5 linked regions of the Homo sapiens genome follow. The protein of the gene in region 1 purifies or fractionates together with the protein of each later gene. This does not show direct contact. Each region holds a gene or a part of one and is shown on either strand. Other genes may lie near its edges. The genes, in order: ZC3H8, RNF10, SRFBP1, LIN28B and TUBA8.

Evidence for each region.
Region 2: the proteins of ZC3H8 (region 1) and RNF10 purify together in Homo sapiens (co-immunoprecipitation; one large-scale study listed by IntAct). This does not show direct contact.
Region 3: the proteins of ZC3H8 (region 1) and SRFBP1 purify together in Homo sapiens (co-immunoprecipitation; one large-scale study listed by IntAct). This does not show direct contact.
Region 4: the proteins of ZC3H8 (region 1) and LIN28B purify together in Homo sapiens (co-immunoprecipitation; 2 studies listed by BioGRID and IntAct, with this or other methods). This does not show direct contact.
Region 5: the proteins of ZC3H8 (region 1) and TUBA8 purify together in Homo sapiens (affinity purification with mass spectrometry; 3 studies listed by BioGRID and IntAct, with this or other methods). This does not show direct contact.

The regions. Positions count from the first base shown.
Region 1 is NC_000002.12:112,238,038-112,241,566, forward strand, and holds part of ZC3H8 (zinc finger CCCH domain-containing protein 8), read right to left. Parts: intron 1,217-3,529; exon of another isoform or gene 1,084-1,216; intron 492-1,083; coding exon 278-491; intron 1-277.
Region 2 is NC_000012.12:120,558,350-120,561,878, forward strand, and holds part of RNF10 (E3 ubiquitin-protein ligase RNF10), read left to right. Parts: intron 1-2,376; coding exon 2,377-2,537; intron 2,538-3,529. UniProt on the Homo sapiens protein: E3 ubiquitin-protein ligase that catalyzes monoubiquitination of 40S ribosomal proteins RPS2/us5 and RPS3/us3 in response to ribosome stalling.
Region 3 is NC_000005.10:121,964,975-121,968,474, forward strand, and holds part of SRFBP1 (serum response factor-binding protein 1), read left to right. Parts: intron 1-3,500. UniProt on the Homo sapiens protein: May be involved in regulating transcriptional activation of cardiac genes during the aging process. May play a role in biosynthesis and/or processing of SLC2A4 in adipose cells.
Region 4 is NC_000006.12:105,075,592-105,079,120, reverse strand, and holds part of LIN28B (protein lin-28 homolog B), read right to left. Parts: intron 708-3,529; coding exon 338-707; 3' UTR 1-337. UniProt on the Homo sapiens protein: Suppressor of microRNA (miRNA) biogenesis, including that of let-7 and possibly of miR107, miR-143 and miR-200c.
Region 5 is NC_000022.11:18,130,002-18,132,242, forward strand, and holds the end of TUBA8 (tubulin alpha-8 chain), read left to right. Parts: intron 1-841; coding exon 842-1,135; 3' UTR 1,136-1,731; downstream 1,732-2,241.

The sequences.
Region 1 (3,529 bases):
GCCAGGGCTTTAGCATTCTCCCTTTAGAAATAGTCAGGGCCTTTGATAACCCACCTCCATCCTCCAGCTCCCTCTACAAACTAAGCATTTAATGCACCAAGTGGCCAGGTCTCAGATGGGGTCTCTGGCCATGCAAGCTCATGTCTGGTATAAATATTCATGAAAACCATAGTCTTATCATAAGATAAAGTGCAAAGAAAAATCCTCTGTCCGTATATGGACAACTGTGACTGCTTCTCTAGATAAACTTTAAATGATAAAATAGTTTGACTCTTACCCTGTGGGGTATCTTTTACTCCTTCTTTCTTTGTAGATTCTTCAGGTTGAGCAGCATTTGCCATTTCTCTGGCTTGTATGTACTGTTGAAGCTCTTTGGCAAAATTATCTTCTGATTCCTGACTGCAGATATCATTATCACTATATACATCATAGTCCTTACTTCTTGATTTTCTATGCAGCGAACTTTTTGGTGATATTGCAGAGTGTCTAAACTAAGTAAAAATTAAAACTTCAATTTTAAAAACCTAGCATGATTCAAAACAATCTGGCTATACAGAAGAAACAAGATTGGCTATAAACTGGTCATTGTTGAAGGTGGGTAATAGGTACATGGGATTCATATACTATTCTCTCCACTCATATATTTGAAAATTTCCAGAATTAAAAAAAAGAAAAAATTTCCAGAATTAAAAACAAACTAACAAACCACTATGACATATCTATCCTTAAAGATGATTTGAGGGAAAATTCTAAATTTGTACATTGTGTGCCTTTGACTGAATTAAAAGTCTAAACCCCTAAATCTTAATTATTTGATATGAGAGGATTACAGTATTACAGTTCACACATTACATTTCTGCCTTTGCATTGACAGTACTTTTAAATGTCTTCAATAATTTATCATTTTGTAAAACACCCCAAGTAAACTGTAATGGTCCATATGAAAACCCACTTACACTTAAGATACATCTAAGCTACCAAAGTCTAGTCTTTCTCCTATAACTCACAGAAGTGGTAGCAGCAATGATGACAAGGAATAAAGAACTACCCTATTCTCTGTAATCAAGTTAACTTTACTTGCAGAAAGAGTTTCCTAACTCTGTTGTTGCACGTGCCCAAGGCAAGGGTGAAGAACCCAGGCATGGGAGCTAATCCTAGAGGAGCCCAGGCTGATGACAGCAATGACTTAAAGCAATTTCTGCATAAAAATTTTCAGGTATTGGTTACATGTGTTTCTACACTTGGTGACACAGGTATATTAAACTGTATCATTATAATTAGTATGTATGACACATTTTAATCAGAAAGTTTATTTTTAAAAAATGACCAAGTATCAAAGGGCTCCTATTCTGATGTCACGAAGAAATGGCATGCCTATCATTACAGTGGATAATGATTTTGTTTCAAAGCATACTTTGGGGCCTGGTCTCTTATTTGCTTTCACATGATAACTAAGAAGCAAACTCAAAACAAACAGACAAAAAACAAAACAGAAGAATCGCTATTATAAAATATATTAGGTGGCCCAATTTAACAGTTTACTTTTTTTTTTTTTTTTTTTTTTTTTGATGGATTCTCACTCTATTGCCCAGGCTGGAGTGCAGTGGCACGATCTTGGCTCACTGCAACCTCTGCCTCCCAGGCTCAAGCGATTCCCTTGCCTCAGCCTCCCGAGTAGCTGGGACTACAGGCATGCACCACCATGCTCAGCTAATTTTTGTATTTTTGATAGAGACAGGGTTTCACCCTATTGGCCAGGCTGGTCCTGAACTGCTGACCTCAAGTGATCCGCCTGCCTCGGCCTCCCAAAGTGCTAGGATTACAGCCATGAGCCACCATGCCCGGCAACAGTTTACTTCTGATGGTTAACTTCAAAGTTAGGAGTTGTTCCACCAGAGGATTGATTATAAGCCTAGAAAATGAACTTGCTCCCTGCTTAAAGAATCCAAACAAGCTGAGGAAGTTTCTTGATCTGACAATGGCCTCAATTATACCTTATCTTCCCTACACCAGACAAGACTATCAACCAATTATCTTCAGGCCACCAAACTTCTTGTCTCTAGGTCTTCAAGAAAGAGTGCCTTTTCCCCATTAACACCATAGAATAAACTTGTAAATGTAACTTCTGGACTGATAGATCAGGGGTTGGCAAATTTTCAGCTTCACCACCTGTTTCTGTAAATACAGTTTTACTGTAACACCAATTACATCCATTCATTTACATATTGTCTTAGTTGTGACAGAGACAACATGGCCTACAAAGGTGAAAAGATTCACTAACTGATCCTTTATGAAAAGGTTGGCCGACTCCTGTGATAGATTATGTTTACCTTGGTTTTGGCCTTTAATTTTATTTAGTAGGCATGGGGGAACCAAAAAGATTATTCAGTATGCAGCAGCTCCTATGAAGTTTAGCTTAATCAAATACATAGAGGTGAGATTTTCTTCAGTGCATCTGAATCAAAATATTAAAATGATCCAAATGAGTGATTAAGTTCCCTCTGTCTGCACAAAACACATAGGCCTACAGTATTGAAGCAGACTCCTTTTACGACAAGTAATAATACGTTGGACTTACATTAAATGAAGACATGAAACAATCTGGCAACATTAATAAAGCCAGGACAATCATCAATTTTGCTGTTTTATTATACAGTAGGGATAAATATTACTAATGATTCTTTTCAGAGGGCATTGAAATATATAAAATACAAATAATTGAATACTTTTCTTCACTTAGCTAGCTATAAACTCATTGCTTCAGTTTGTTGTTTTTTGTATAATTTAAAAAGCATACGAACATGATTACATCCCCTTTCTCCTTTTGTAAGAGTCTAAATAACTTTTTTTATTCAAGATGGTTTACTGAACTAGTATGGCCTCCAGAAACCTCCAAAATTAAAGTACAGGTAACAGTGTGTGTGTGTGTGTGTGTGTGTGTGTGTGTGCGCGTGTGTATGTGTGTTGTGTTTTGTGTGTGTGTGTGTGTGTGTATGGGAGGCATGAAGTGCATTCATCAGGAATTAAGAGTCAAATTTCTGATAGACAAAAAGGAAGTTATGCTCTAAAGGGTGGGCTTAGGTACAGTGTGAGAAATGGGGCTATAAATGAGAATGAATTAAAATTCTACAAAAAACAGACAAAGCTGTTACAACAAATTCTCTCTGCCCTCTCCCTCTCCAGAACACAACCACCCAGGTACTTTCCCTAGGAAAAAAAGAGAAGGCTGTTATCCAAAGAAATGGAATAGAATGTCTGGTAAAAGCTAAGATGTGGGTACTACGACCACCCACATGGAGGTACTAAATCTTCCATGGGCTGGCATTTGGGAGCAACCCCTACTAGAAAAATACTCCATCCTACTCACCATAAAGCAGGGGTTCTCACCCTGCTGTCCAGAGACCCCCCCCTCAAGGGCCTATGGATTGAATTCAGAAAATTCAGTGAACTTGAATTCAGAAAATTCAGTGAACTTGAATGAGAAGAAAACCACATATTATTTTCATCAACCTCCAAATTGACATTTGGT
Region 2 (3,529 bases), on another chromosome or scaffold:
GTGTTCTCATTTGGGTGGTAAATGTGTGTGTGTAATATTTTTTTCCTAGTGATTTTGACTGTTTAAATGTTTAGCAACTTAAAACATTAAAAATGTGTATTAATTAAAAAAAAATCCTCAGATATGGGTGGATTTTTGAACCAGGCTGAAATGATAGATGCTGTAAAAGACTGATAAATTTTATTTTTATTTTATTTATAGATATATAATATAATATGTATATATATATTTTTTTTTGAGACAGAGTCTGGCTCTGTCACCCAGGCTGGAGTGCAGTGGCATGATCTTGGCTCACTGCAACCTCTGCCTCCCGGGTTTGAGCGATTCTCGTGCCTCAGCCTCCCGAGTAGCTGGGACTACAGGCGCCCGCCACCATGCCTGGCTGATTTTTTTTGTATTTTTAGTAGAGACGGGGTTTCACCATGTTGGCAGGCTAGTCTCGAACTCCCGAGCTCAAGTGATCTGCCCGCCTTACCTCCCAAAGTGCTGGGATTACAGGCGTGAGCCACTGTGACCGGCCAAGAAAACCACTTTTAGTGTCCACAGAATTTTCGTTAATGAACATACCATCATGTCATTAACCCTTTATTTGAGATGGAATCTCACTTTGTCGCCTGGGCTGGAGTGCAGTGGCAATAATTACTTTTAATTAATTAAATTCATTAAAATAATTAAAATTAATTTAATTAATTAAATTAACTTTTAATTTTAAATTATTTTTTTTATTTTAAAAAATTAACTGGGCATGCAGGTATAGTTAATTTTTTATTTTTATTTTTAGCAGAGATGAGGTCTTGCTATGTTGATAGGCTGGTCTTGAACTACTCTTTTTTTTTTTTTTTTTTTTTTTGAGACGGAGTCTTGCTGTGTTTCCCAGGCTGGAGTGCAATGGTGTGATCTCGGCTCACTGCAACCTCCACCTCCTCGGTTCAAACGATTTTCCTTCCTCAGCTTCCTGAGTAGCTGGCATTTCAGGCACCTGCCACCACGCCCGGCTAATTTTTGTTTTTTTTGTGTGTGTGTGTTGTGCTTTTTTTGTTTTTGTTTTTGTTTTGAGATGGAGTCTCACTCTGTTGCCAGGCTGGAATGCAGTGGTGCAATCCCGGCTCACTGCAATCTCCGCCTCCCAGGTTCAAGAGATTCTCCTGCCTCAGCGTCCTGAGTAGCTGAGATTACAGGCACGCACCACCACACCTGGCTAGTTTTTGTATTTTTAGTAGAGACGGGGTTTCACCATGTTGGCCAGCATGGTCTCAATCTCTTGATCTTGTGATCCGCCTACCTCAGCCTCCCAAAGTGCTGGGATTACAGGTGTGAGCCACCGTACTCCGCCTGGTGTTATTTTTTTTTAATTTTATTTTTTGAGGCAGAGTTTTGCACTTGTTGCCCAGGCTGGAGTGCAATGGTGCGATCTTGGCTCACTGAAACCTCTGCCTCCTGGGTTCAAGCGATTTTCTTACTCCAGCCTCCCTAGTAGCTGGGATTATAGGCGCCCGTCACCACGCCCAGCTAATTTTTTGTATTTTTAATAGAAACAGGGTATCTCTATGTTGGCCAGGCTGGTTTCGAACTCCTAACTTCAGGTGATCCACCTGCCTCAGCCTCCCAAAGTGCTGAACGTGAGCCACCACACCCAGCTGGCTTGGTCTTAAACTTCTAAACTCAAGCAATCTTCCTGTCTTGGCCTCTCAAAGTACTGGGATTATAGGTGTGAGCCACTGCGCTGGTCCACCATTTCTTTATTCTTTATTGTTGGTTTTACTGGTTGGTTTGAGCTTTTCTTTTTCTGTGTGTGGTTTTTTTTGTTTTTTTTTTTTTTGAGACAGAGTTTCGCTTTTGTTGCCCAAGCTGGAATGCAGTGGCATGATCTTGGCTCACTGCGACCTCTGCCTCCTGGGTTCAAGCGATTCTCCTGCCTCAGCCTCCCAAGTAGCTGGGATTACAGGCATGCCCTACCAGGCCCGACTAACTTTTTTGTATCTTTAGTAGAGACGGGGTTTCACCATGTTGGTCAGGCTGGTCTCGAACTCTTGATCTCAAGTGATCCACCCGCCTTGACCTCCCAAAGTGCTGGGATTACAGGTGTGAGCCATGGTGCCTGGCTGGTTTGAGCTTTTCTGATATTACATACAATGCTGTAACAATAAACGCGTGACTAAAGTTTTGACTACATCTCTGGGTTTCTTAGATTTCTTATATCAAGAGCAGAGCTACAGACCTTATTTTAAGACCATTGTTAAATTATTTTCTAGGAAATCATGCTAAATTACCCCATTTTCACCCCAGAGAAAAGGCTGTATTTGAAAATTCCTATTTAGCTACACCATCGTGAGCTTTGAATGTTGCATTTCTTTGATCTTGCTGGCATTCTTATAGATGAACAGCACAGCCAGTACTCCAAGTTGCTGCTGGCCTCTAAGGAGCAGGTGCTGCACCGGGTAGTTCTGGAGGAGAAAGTAGCACTAGAGCAGCAGCTGGCAGAGGAGAAGCACACTCCCGAGTCCTGCTTTATTGAGGCAGCTATCCAGGAGCTCAAGGTGAGAGGATGCATTGGAGATGCTAAACCTTTTCACTTTCTCGGCGTTCTGTGGTGAAAACCAGAAATGCTAAACCTTTTCACTCTGTCGGGGGTGAGATGATGGACGCTGGGGATTAAGTTAGTTCCATTCCACATTTAAGACAATAAGCAGAGAATGGCTAAAAAAGCCAATTTGTTTTGGGCTTTGTTTGATGACAGTAGAGAAGGTTTAACCTAGGGCTTTTAAAGCTCTTTCTAGAGCTGAAAGGAGCAAGTCAAAATGATTTTATAACTAATTGTGACAGTGGAGTTTTTTAGATTAGCTATGTTCTTAAAGCAAGTTAGAGTTCTTTGTTTTCTGGGAAAATACTTAAGATTCTATTCTAGAGGTGTTTTGAAAGACATTGTGGAGAAAGTATTATGGCCTGCCCAGTATGCCTTAGGAGTACCTGAAACGGCAAGAATTACACAAGAACAGAATTCCCTGGGTCTTTTATCTTCCACAACAGAGATTCTTGAAGCATCACAACCACTGGTTGTTAGGTCCCACTTTGAGATATTGATTGCATAGGTTAAGCTCAGTAGGCTCAGTAATTTGCATATAACAAGTTCTAGGGTGATTCTGATGGCTGCTCATCCCCAGACCACACTCCTGGAACCACTGATCTAGCTTAGAGCAATAGAAGCCCATATTTATTGAGTGATCAGCATTTGATAGGACTTGTGCTATACACATTTATCTCACTTAAGCTTCTAGTGTGGTAGATAGAACTATCCCCTTTCATGGATGAGGAAACTGAATCCTGGGTTGGGTAATTTGCTAGTAAGGGATGCAGCTGGTATTTGAATTCCCTTCTCCCTGACTCCCAAGGGCTCCTTGGGTAGAGTCCTGTGTATTTAACTTTTGCTTTCTTTCTATAATACGTTGCAGCCGTATTTGTTCAAATGCCATTACAGGCATAAGAAAGGCTACATAGAATTAGAGCTGTCCAGGCTGAGGTGGAGTTAGCT
Region 3 (3,500 bases), on another chromosome or scaffold:
GCTGCATAAATGACTTCTTTTGAGAAGTGTCTGTTCATGTCCTTCGCCCACTTTTTGATGGGGTTGTTTTTTTCTTGTAAATTTGTTTAAGTTCTTTGTAGATTTTGGATATTAACCCTTTGTCCGATGGATAGATTGCAAAAATTTTCTCCCATTCTGTAGGTTGCATGTTCACTCTGATGATAGTTGCTTTTGCTGTGAAGAAGCTCTTTAGTTTAATTAGATCCCATTTGTCATTTTTGGCTTTTGTTGCCATTGCTTTTGGTGTTTTAGTCATGTAGTCTTTGTCCATGCCTCAGTCCTGAATGGTATTGCCTAGGTTTTCTTCTAGGGTTTTTATGGTTTTAGGTCTGACGTTTAAGTCTTTAATCCATCTTGAGTTAATTTTTGTATAAGGTGTAAGGAAGGGGTCCAGTTTCAGTTTTCTGCATATGGCTACCCAGTTTTCCCAACACCATCTATTAAATAGGGAATCATTTCCCCATTGCTTGTTTTTGTCAGGTTTGTCAAAGATCAGATGTTTGTAGATGTGTGGTGTTGTTTCTGAGGCCTCTGTTCTGTTCCATTGGTCTATATATCTGTTTTGGTACCAGTACCATGCTGTTTTGGTTACTATAGCCTTGTATTATAGTTTGAAGTCAGGTAGCATGATGCCTCCAGCTTTGTCCCTTTTACTTAGGATTGTCTTGGCTATGCAGGCTCTTTTTTGATTCCATATGAACTTTAAAGTAGTTTTTTCCAATTCTGTGAAGAAAGTCAATGGTAGCTTGATGGGGATAGCTTTAAATCTATAAATTACTTTGGGCAGTATGGCTGTTTTCACGATATTGATTCTTCCTATCTATGAGCATGGAATGTTTTTCCATTTGTATGTGTCCTCTCTTATTTCCTTGAACAGTGGTTTGTAGTTCTTGAAGAGGTCCTTCACATCCCTGTAAGTTGTATTTCTAGGCATTTTATTCTCTTTGTGCAATTGTGAATCGGGAGTTCACTCATGATTTGGCTCTCTGTTTGTCTATTATTGGTGTATGGGAATGCTTGTGATTTTTGCACATTGATTTTGTATCCTGAGACTTTGCTGAAATTGCTTATCAGCTTAAGGAGATTTGGGGCTGAAACAATGGGGTTTTCTAGATATACAGTCATGTCTTCTGCAAATAGAGACAGTTTGACTTCCTCTCTTCCTATTTGAATACGCTTTATTTCTTTCTCTTGCCTGATTACCCCGGCCAGAACTTCCAATACTAAGTATGTTGTAAAGAGATTAAGATTAAAGTTTGTTGTTATTCTTGCGAAGTAAAGTAAAAATTTATCTTTACTCTTCTAAAAAATAAACCATCACTTTTTACTCTATCCTGATGATTATTTATTGCATATTTTTGGTACTTTGAAGAGAGAATTTTTGATTGCTTTTATAGCAGCTTCCCTAACCTCCAGCACAGTACCTTGTCTACAGGTAATAAGAAGTAGGTATATAATGGGCAGATGAAAGCATGGATAGCATAACTGTCAACTAATGTTCAAATGAGAGGGAAAATCTCCTAAATGCTTTTTTTCCTCCCTTTCCATTAGAACTAGAGGAGAAATGCACAATTGAAAACAACAGTGCCATAGCATTTAGTGCGTAAATAATTTGCAAAACTAGAGCTAGATTTTCTCAAGTCATCTGTTTTCTAAAATTTAGGCAGCAGTGATATGTAAAAATCAGATTTAGGAGGTGTAGCAATCTGATGGAGTGCTTTAATTTCATAGGAAGGCCAACGGCCTATATGTACAACTGACATTTTATTTTTTTTTATTTTTTATTTTTTATTTTTTTTTTTGAGACGGAGTCTCGCTCTGTCGCCCAGGCTGGAGTGCAGTGGCAGGATCTTGGCTCACTGAAAGCTCCACCTCCTGGGTTCACGCCATTCTTCTGCCTCAGCCTCCCGACTAGCTGGGACTACAGGCGTCCACCATCACGCCCAGCTAATTTTTTTTTTTTTTTTTTTTGTATTTTTAGTAGAGACAGGGTTTCACCGTGTTAGCCAGGATGGTCTCGATCTCCTGACCTCGTGATCCGCCTGCCTCAGCCTCCCAGAGTGCTGGGATTGCAGGCATGAGCCACCACGCCTGGCCTATTTTATTGTTTGATAGCAAATTACCATTAAGCCCATTAGAAAATTGCTTTTCATTTCATGTAAGACAGTAAAGGTAGAAACTAAAGTGCCAAAGAACAAAATGAGTTTCCTCCACATATTGTAAAACATAAGAATGTCAAGAACCACGTTTGTATGCGCTTATGAAGTTACAAAACGCTTGTGTCGTGATTAGGTGCATAGTACTTTTTAATAATTTTTTTCTGAAATATTAAATTAGGGCATTTCCGTAAGAACCAATTTGTGTTTAGTTATTAAACTATTCTGGGAAGTTTTGCTAGGTGGCAGCATATGCCCAATAATGGTTAAATCGTAGATAATCACTAAGCACTCTAGGTATTTTAAAAAATTGTTGCTCATCAGAAATAAAAAGTAAAATCAACAATAAGTTATCATCCATATGATAAAATTAGGGTCCTCTTCATACAAAAATAATTTTGGCCAGGTGCAGTGCCTCACTCTATAATCCCAGCACTTTGGGAGGCTGAGGCCGGCAGATCACTTGAGCTCACGAGTTTGAGACCAGCCTGGGCGACATGGTGAAACCCCGTCTCTACAAAAAATACAGAAAAATTAGCCAAACATGGTAGTACGTACCTGTAGTCCCAGCTACTTGGGAGGCTAAGGTGGGAAGATGGCTTGAGCCCGGGAGGGGGACGGAGGTTGTGATGAGTCGAGATCACACAACTACTCTCCTGCCTGGGCAATAGAGCCAGACCTTGTTTCGAACAAAGACAAGAAACCCAATAATTTTGTTAACTATGAATTACTTCAAACGTATGGAAAATAATGTAACAGATCTTCTTATAATCTACTTCCTATGTTTAGGAAATGTCAGTGTTTTGCTATATCTTAATATTTAATTCCACCCATCTTCTTTTCTACCTCAGAGGTAATTATTCCTCTTGGTGTGTGTTTTTCTCTTATATATTTTTCACAATTTTAGTAACATACGTATCTATACCCAGTGTATAGTATTGTGTTGTATACTTTTAAACTGCATATTGTTTTACAAATTATAAATTGTAGTAGTCTCCCTTTATCCATGGGGGTTATGTTCCAAGACCCCCAGTGTATGCTTAAAACCTCAGATAGTACCAAACTCTGTCATTATTATTATTATTATTATTATTATTATTATTATTTTCTGTACAGTAATGGGCAGGTAACGGATACAGCAGAAATACACTGGATGTATGATTTACATCCCATGTGGGATGGAGTAGTACAGTGAGAGATTTCATTATGCTACTCAGAGTGGTGCACAATTTAAAATTTATGAGTTATTTATATTTGGAATTTTGGCTAACCGCAGGTAACTGAAACTGCTGACAACAAAATTGTTGGTGGGGGGGACTACTG
Region 4 (3,529 bases), on another chromosome or scaffold:
TGATCTATACACAAATATATAAAGACAAAGCCTCTTTATATATGTGTCTACATTCCTATATAAAAATCCTCATGTACACACACAGACTCAGGCTCTCTCCCTCTCACACATGCACATATTGACAGACATAGTATCTTATTCTCTGAATTAACATAAAACATGACACCCTGCTCAAATGTAATTTGCTTAGAGTGATTTGTCTGTTTAAAAAATTCACAGTTCCCCAATAGTAGTTAAAATCCCAGGTCAGCTACTGCTTGTGAAATACTGTTCCCCTATACTTGCATGAGGTAGACTTTGCAACCGGGTAAAGGAAAGAACATATGAAGAAGACCTGTTATGTCTTTTTCCTTTTTTGAACTGAAGGCCCCTTTTTGCTTTGCTCTTCTGGTGCTATAGATGACTTCGTGGAGGAAGCTTCTTGAGGTGACCTGCCTGACCGTTCTGAGATCTCTGCCCTAGCCTCCTGAGGAAACGGTGGTGATGTACAGCCATGCCCGCCTCCCACTTCTCGAGGGAGAGTTGAAGTGCATGGCTGGGATTCTGCTTCCTGTCTTCCCTGAGAACTCGCGGGTGGCTGTGCAACATTTTTATGTGGGCAGTTTGCCACCATGTGCATGATGCTCTGACAGTAATGGCACTTCTTTGGCTGAGGAGGTAGACTACATTCCTTAGCATGATGATCAAGGCCACCACAGTTGTAGCATCTACAAGGAAAAAAGATGAAAACATCTTAGAAGTAGGCAGCATGTATCCAAAAACACATTTTAAAATGTGAAAACACACAAACTACCAATGAGATAAGCTTATTTTAATGTGCCTTCTTAAAAGCATTTATCATTGTTTATACTGGTTACACTGTTGGTTCAAAGACTATCATCACCAAAATGTTCTGGTGAGGTTAAAAACTTAGTTGTGTGAGACACAACTAAACACAGTGAAAAACAAGAGTATTAAAACATGTAAGAATATTTAATCACTTCCATATAGAAAGGATTCCTTTAAATTTGACACTATCTGGTCATTTTAAAAGAACCATTAAGCCCACTAGAGGGCAGCGAATATTCAACAAAAAACAACAAGCCAGTTTTAAAAACAAGAGTGTAGAAATACAGCTGTTGGCATGATACAAAGTGGCAATTCACTCAGAAACTGGCAAAATTTTAGACCAAATTTAAAAGTTTAACACTTCTTTGAATGTTAATTATTTTGACTGTAGAAACCAGCTAAACTGGAAAAATTTTTTTCCTTTGTATAAAATTAAGTAATGCAGTGAAATTTGATATATAAGAAAGTCAGAGTCTAGTCAGAAAGTCAGGATGATATCTGGCAAATTACCAAGTAATTTTAGAGCAATAGAGTAAATGTCTGAATCAGAACAGTGCTAAAAAAAGAAAGCTTCTAAATACTTAGATTGAATTAATAAAGGTTCATGCTAGTTCAATGATGAGAAAAGTTAACTTTCTTTTCTTTTTTGTAAGAAATTAGCTTTCTTTTAGGGTGATCTCTTTTAAGTTAAAATAAATGGAAATCCGTCCATAATATGTGAATGCACACTGGGGACATGGCTTTGTATTAGATGTTTGAAAGTTCAGCTTTTAGCTTGGCAAGGAAAGCTAAGCAAGAAAATTTTTTCAGAGGTATATTTGTTCAATCAGATTTTCTTCTAAAATTTTATATTAAAAGTAACAAAAAAACCATTAGTGGAAGAAACTAAGAAAAATTTATATTTACCAAAGGTGTTAAATCTGATTTTAAATACAGAATTTGTTTAATGACTTGTCTCCAAATGAAATATTTTAAGAGCTTTCTATTTTATTTTCCAAATACATTTATGACTCCATAAATCTCATTTATGAAGCACAAAGAACAACAGGTTATATATATATATTTTTTGAGATGGAATCTCTCTCTGTTGCCCAGGCCAGAGTGCAGTGATCTCGGTTCACTGCAACCTCTGCCTCCCGGATTTGGGCGATTCTCCTGCCTCAGCCTCGGGAGTAGCTAGGATTACAGGCATGTGCCACCATGCCCGGCTAATTTTTGTATTTTTGGTAGAGACAGGGTTTCACCATGTTGGCCAGGCTGGTCTTGAACTCCTGACCTCAAGTGATCCGCCTGCCCCTTCCTCCCAAAGTGCTGGGATTACAGACGTGAGCCACTGCACCCAGCCAGGTTATAATGTTTTTAAAAAATAATAACAAAATGTTTTAACTAGCTGGGTGGCGGTGGCTCACGCTTGTAATCCCAGCACTTTGGGAGACCGAGACAGGCGGATTATGAGGTCAGGAGATCCAGACCATTCTGGCCAACATGGTGAAACTCTGCCTCTACTAAAAATACAAAAATTAGCTGGGCATGATGGCGCGCGCTTGTAGTCCCAAGCTACTCGGGAGGCTGAGGCAGAACTGCTTGAACCTGGGAGGCGGAGGTTGCAGTAAGCCGAGATTGCGCCACTGCACTCCAGCCTGGCGACAGAGTGAGACTCCATCTCCAACAACAACAACAAAAAAAGTGTTAACTGAGAAAATTGGCTTAAGTCCAGACTCACAACAAGAAGTGAATTATGATGACATATTTGTATGTGTGTGAGAACATCAAACTTAATAATTTATTCTACCTTATATTTCATAGACAAACTACTAAGGTACTAACAACCTACTAAGCAGTGTATATAGGATATTTAGTATTTTATCTCCTGGCATAAATTGAACAGTGAATTTTTTAATTGGCAAAAATTAGGGTAACTATTGCCTGCTTCTCCAGTTAGCAATATTACCTTATATACTTTAGAATAATGAATTTATAAGATGGGCTTTTATTCTTTGCAATGATTAACAAGTATTTATCTTAGGACAGACTGAATCATATTTTCAAAAAGAGAAAAAAAAACAAGAAATCACATGTTGTAGTTAAATTATTCATTGTATAATTACATATCTTAATAAAGTATTACAGTGCAGATTCAATATTGTTTCAGCCATATGTTCTAAGAGAGTGTAAGATTAAATAATAAAGTTTACTTGCTAATGCTTAAAATTCAGGTTCTCAAAATAACACTAAAAAATGACATATTTGAAAAATATAACCACATTACTTATAATAATATATTTTCCCACACAGTTCTCCTCTACAATAGATAAGTGAATTCTTAAATTAAAGTTGCCCATCTATAAAATATCTTCTTTTGAATTAAATTCACTTCCTTGAGGATAACTTCCACTCAGGAGCTCATTTTCAAAGAGACAGAAAATAGGTTAAAGGCTTCAGTAATAGGGCTGGCTCTCCTGCAGACACATCAATTTTATCAGTCACCGTGGTATGCACTGTGTTATCCAATTCAGGGAACCATTTTGCCCACTCATTGACCAGGAGCCTGATGTCAGTATTCTACTTTCACAAATGGGATCTTCAATTACCCTCTATCTGTGCATTTACCATTAGATTTGGGCTATAAAAGTTATTTTTAAGGATGCTATATAATTTTGGTTTCCTTACATTTTGATCTGCATAGTTAATTCACCCCCTT
Region 5 (2,241 bases), on another chromosome or scaffold:
CTTCAACAACCTTCTTGGATTGGAGACCCTGCTTTTCTTCTAAGAAGCCCCAATTCCCAAAAACCTAGAGCCTGGTTAACGCCAACACCATCCCGGGGCCTTTCGGCTCTCTTTATTTATTGCTCTGGAATATCCCTGTGACCTCTTCCAACAGTTTTCACTCTTGGCAGGGAAACTTCCTTAAATTTACTCGCAACACAACTAAGAGGAACTTCAGATGACCACTTGGGAGAGAGTACACTTTTGAACAGCTTTGAATCTAGAATGCGTTTCCCTGTTACACATACACATGTACCAGACACCTCCCACCCGCTCCTAATGTCGCTCGTGACTCTCATTTGCCTACTTGCTGAGCCCCCTATACCAGCCCTGTCCTCCTTCTCTAGCCTTTGATTGCCCAGCCCTTCCCCATCTACTTTTTTTTTTGTTTTGCTTTTAAGAGACAGGGTCTTGCTGTGTCCCTGCCACTGGAGTGCAGTGGAACCACTGTAGCTCACTGCAGCCTTGACCTCATGGGCTCAAGTGATCCTTCCACCTCAGCCTCCCTGAGTAGCTGGGACTAGTAGGCATAGCCACCGGGCCTGGCTAATTTTTTTTTTTTTTTTGGTAGAGATGGGTTTTTGCTCTGTTGCCCTGCCTGCTTCCACTTTCTCTTCAGCTTCTCCCTTGCCACCTGCTGGCTTCCCCAGTCCCATCCCGCCTGTTGCATCCCATAGCCCCACTCCCACGCCCCTGACCATGACTTGAAGCCATGCCAAGTGACCAAGATGTCCCATCCTGAGTTATCCTCTGGCTGACTTGTATCTTCTTCTGTGGCTCCTCCTCTTTCTGTGTCCCTCAGGTGGGCATCAACTACCAGCCCCCGACCGTGGTCCCCGGGGGAGACCTGGCCAAGGTGCAGCGGGCCGTCTGCATGCTCAGCAACACCACGGCCATTGCGGAGGCCTGGGCCCGCCTCGACCACAAGTTCGACCTCATGTACGCCAAGCGGGCCTTTGTGCATTGGTATGTGGGAGAGGGGATGGAAGAAGGAGAATTTTCTGAGGCCAGGGAAGACTTAGCTGCCCTGGAGAAGGATTATGAAGAAGTGGGGACTGATTCGTTTGAAGAAGAAAATGAAGGGGAGGAATTTTAAATATATACCTTCCCCTTGGCTGTGTCTCTTTATTTATGCTGTGCCATTCAAAGCACATGTTCAAGAGAACAGAACACTCTCCCCGCCCCAGCCTGATTCCTGCCTTACCCAGGAGGAGGGTGCCTGGCCCCAGTACCCAGGGTGGCACGACTGGGCTAAGTGGACACTGAGCTTCATCAGGCCCTCCCTGGGTAGGAGCAGCTTTGTGTCACTAAAGAAAGTGAGGGCCACTGTCTCCGGCGGGTGAGGCTGCAGCCCAGTTTCACATGCGAGGAGGCCTAATCAGGAGTTTCAATTCCAGATCGGGCTGGGTCCAGCCCCAAAACATGGCCTGCTGGCTGGGGAGTGGGAACACTCAGAGAAAGGGGAGATCTGGGCCTGGGAAGATTCCGGGGCAGGGGTGAGCGGACGTTCACATGAGTGGGTCTATAGCCCGCTCCGGGCATCATCTAGACTTAGCATGCATTCACTCCCCCATCACATATTCCAATACACACCCTGTCCTAGGCACTGAGAGCTGGAGAGTTGGTGATAAGCGAGACGAACACATTTCCTGCCCTCATACACACATAAATAAAGTGAATGAGATCATGTCAGCTGGTGTCAAGTGAGAGAAAGTAAAAAGCAGTGGTGAGAGAGTGTCTGGGCGTGCTCCTGTGGACTGCGTGGTCAAGACAGCCTCATGGAGGCCTGGGCCGTGCAAAAGGATGCTAGGTGCAGGGAGAAGCAAGTGCAAAAGCTAGGAACAAGCTTGGAGCGTCTGCAGAGCAGAAAGGAGATTGTTTCCTGGAGGATGGTGAGAGGGGAAGAGTCAGAGAGACAAGACCCAGGAGCCAGGCAGGGCCAGAGAGCATCCAGCCTTACAGGCCATGGAGAGGAGTTTAGAATTTTTTTCTAAGTGAAACAGAAGGATTTGGAAGGTTTCAAGCAGGATATGTATACCTTATTTCTATATTCATACTGACCTTATATCCAATCCTCCCAACAGTCTCAAAATGGATATTCTGCTCATTGTGTAGATGAACAGACTGGGATGTTTTAGGTGTTGGAGACAGTAGGAGGTAGAGCTGAGATGCAGGGCCTGCCTTTCCTCCTGTCCTGTCCAC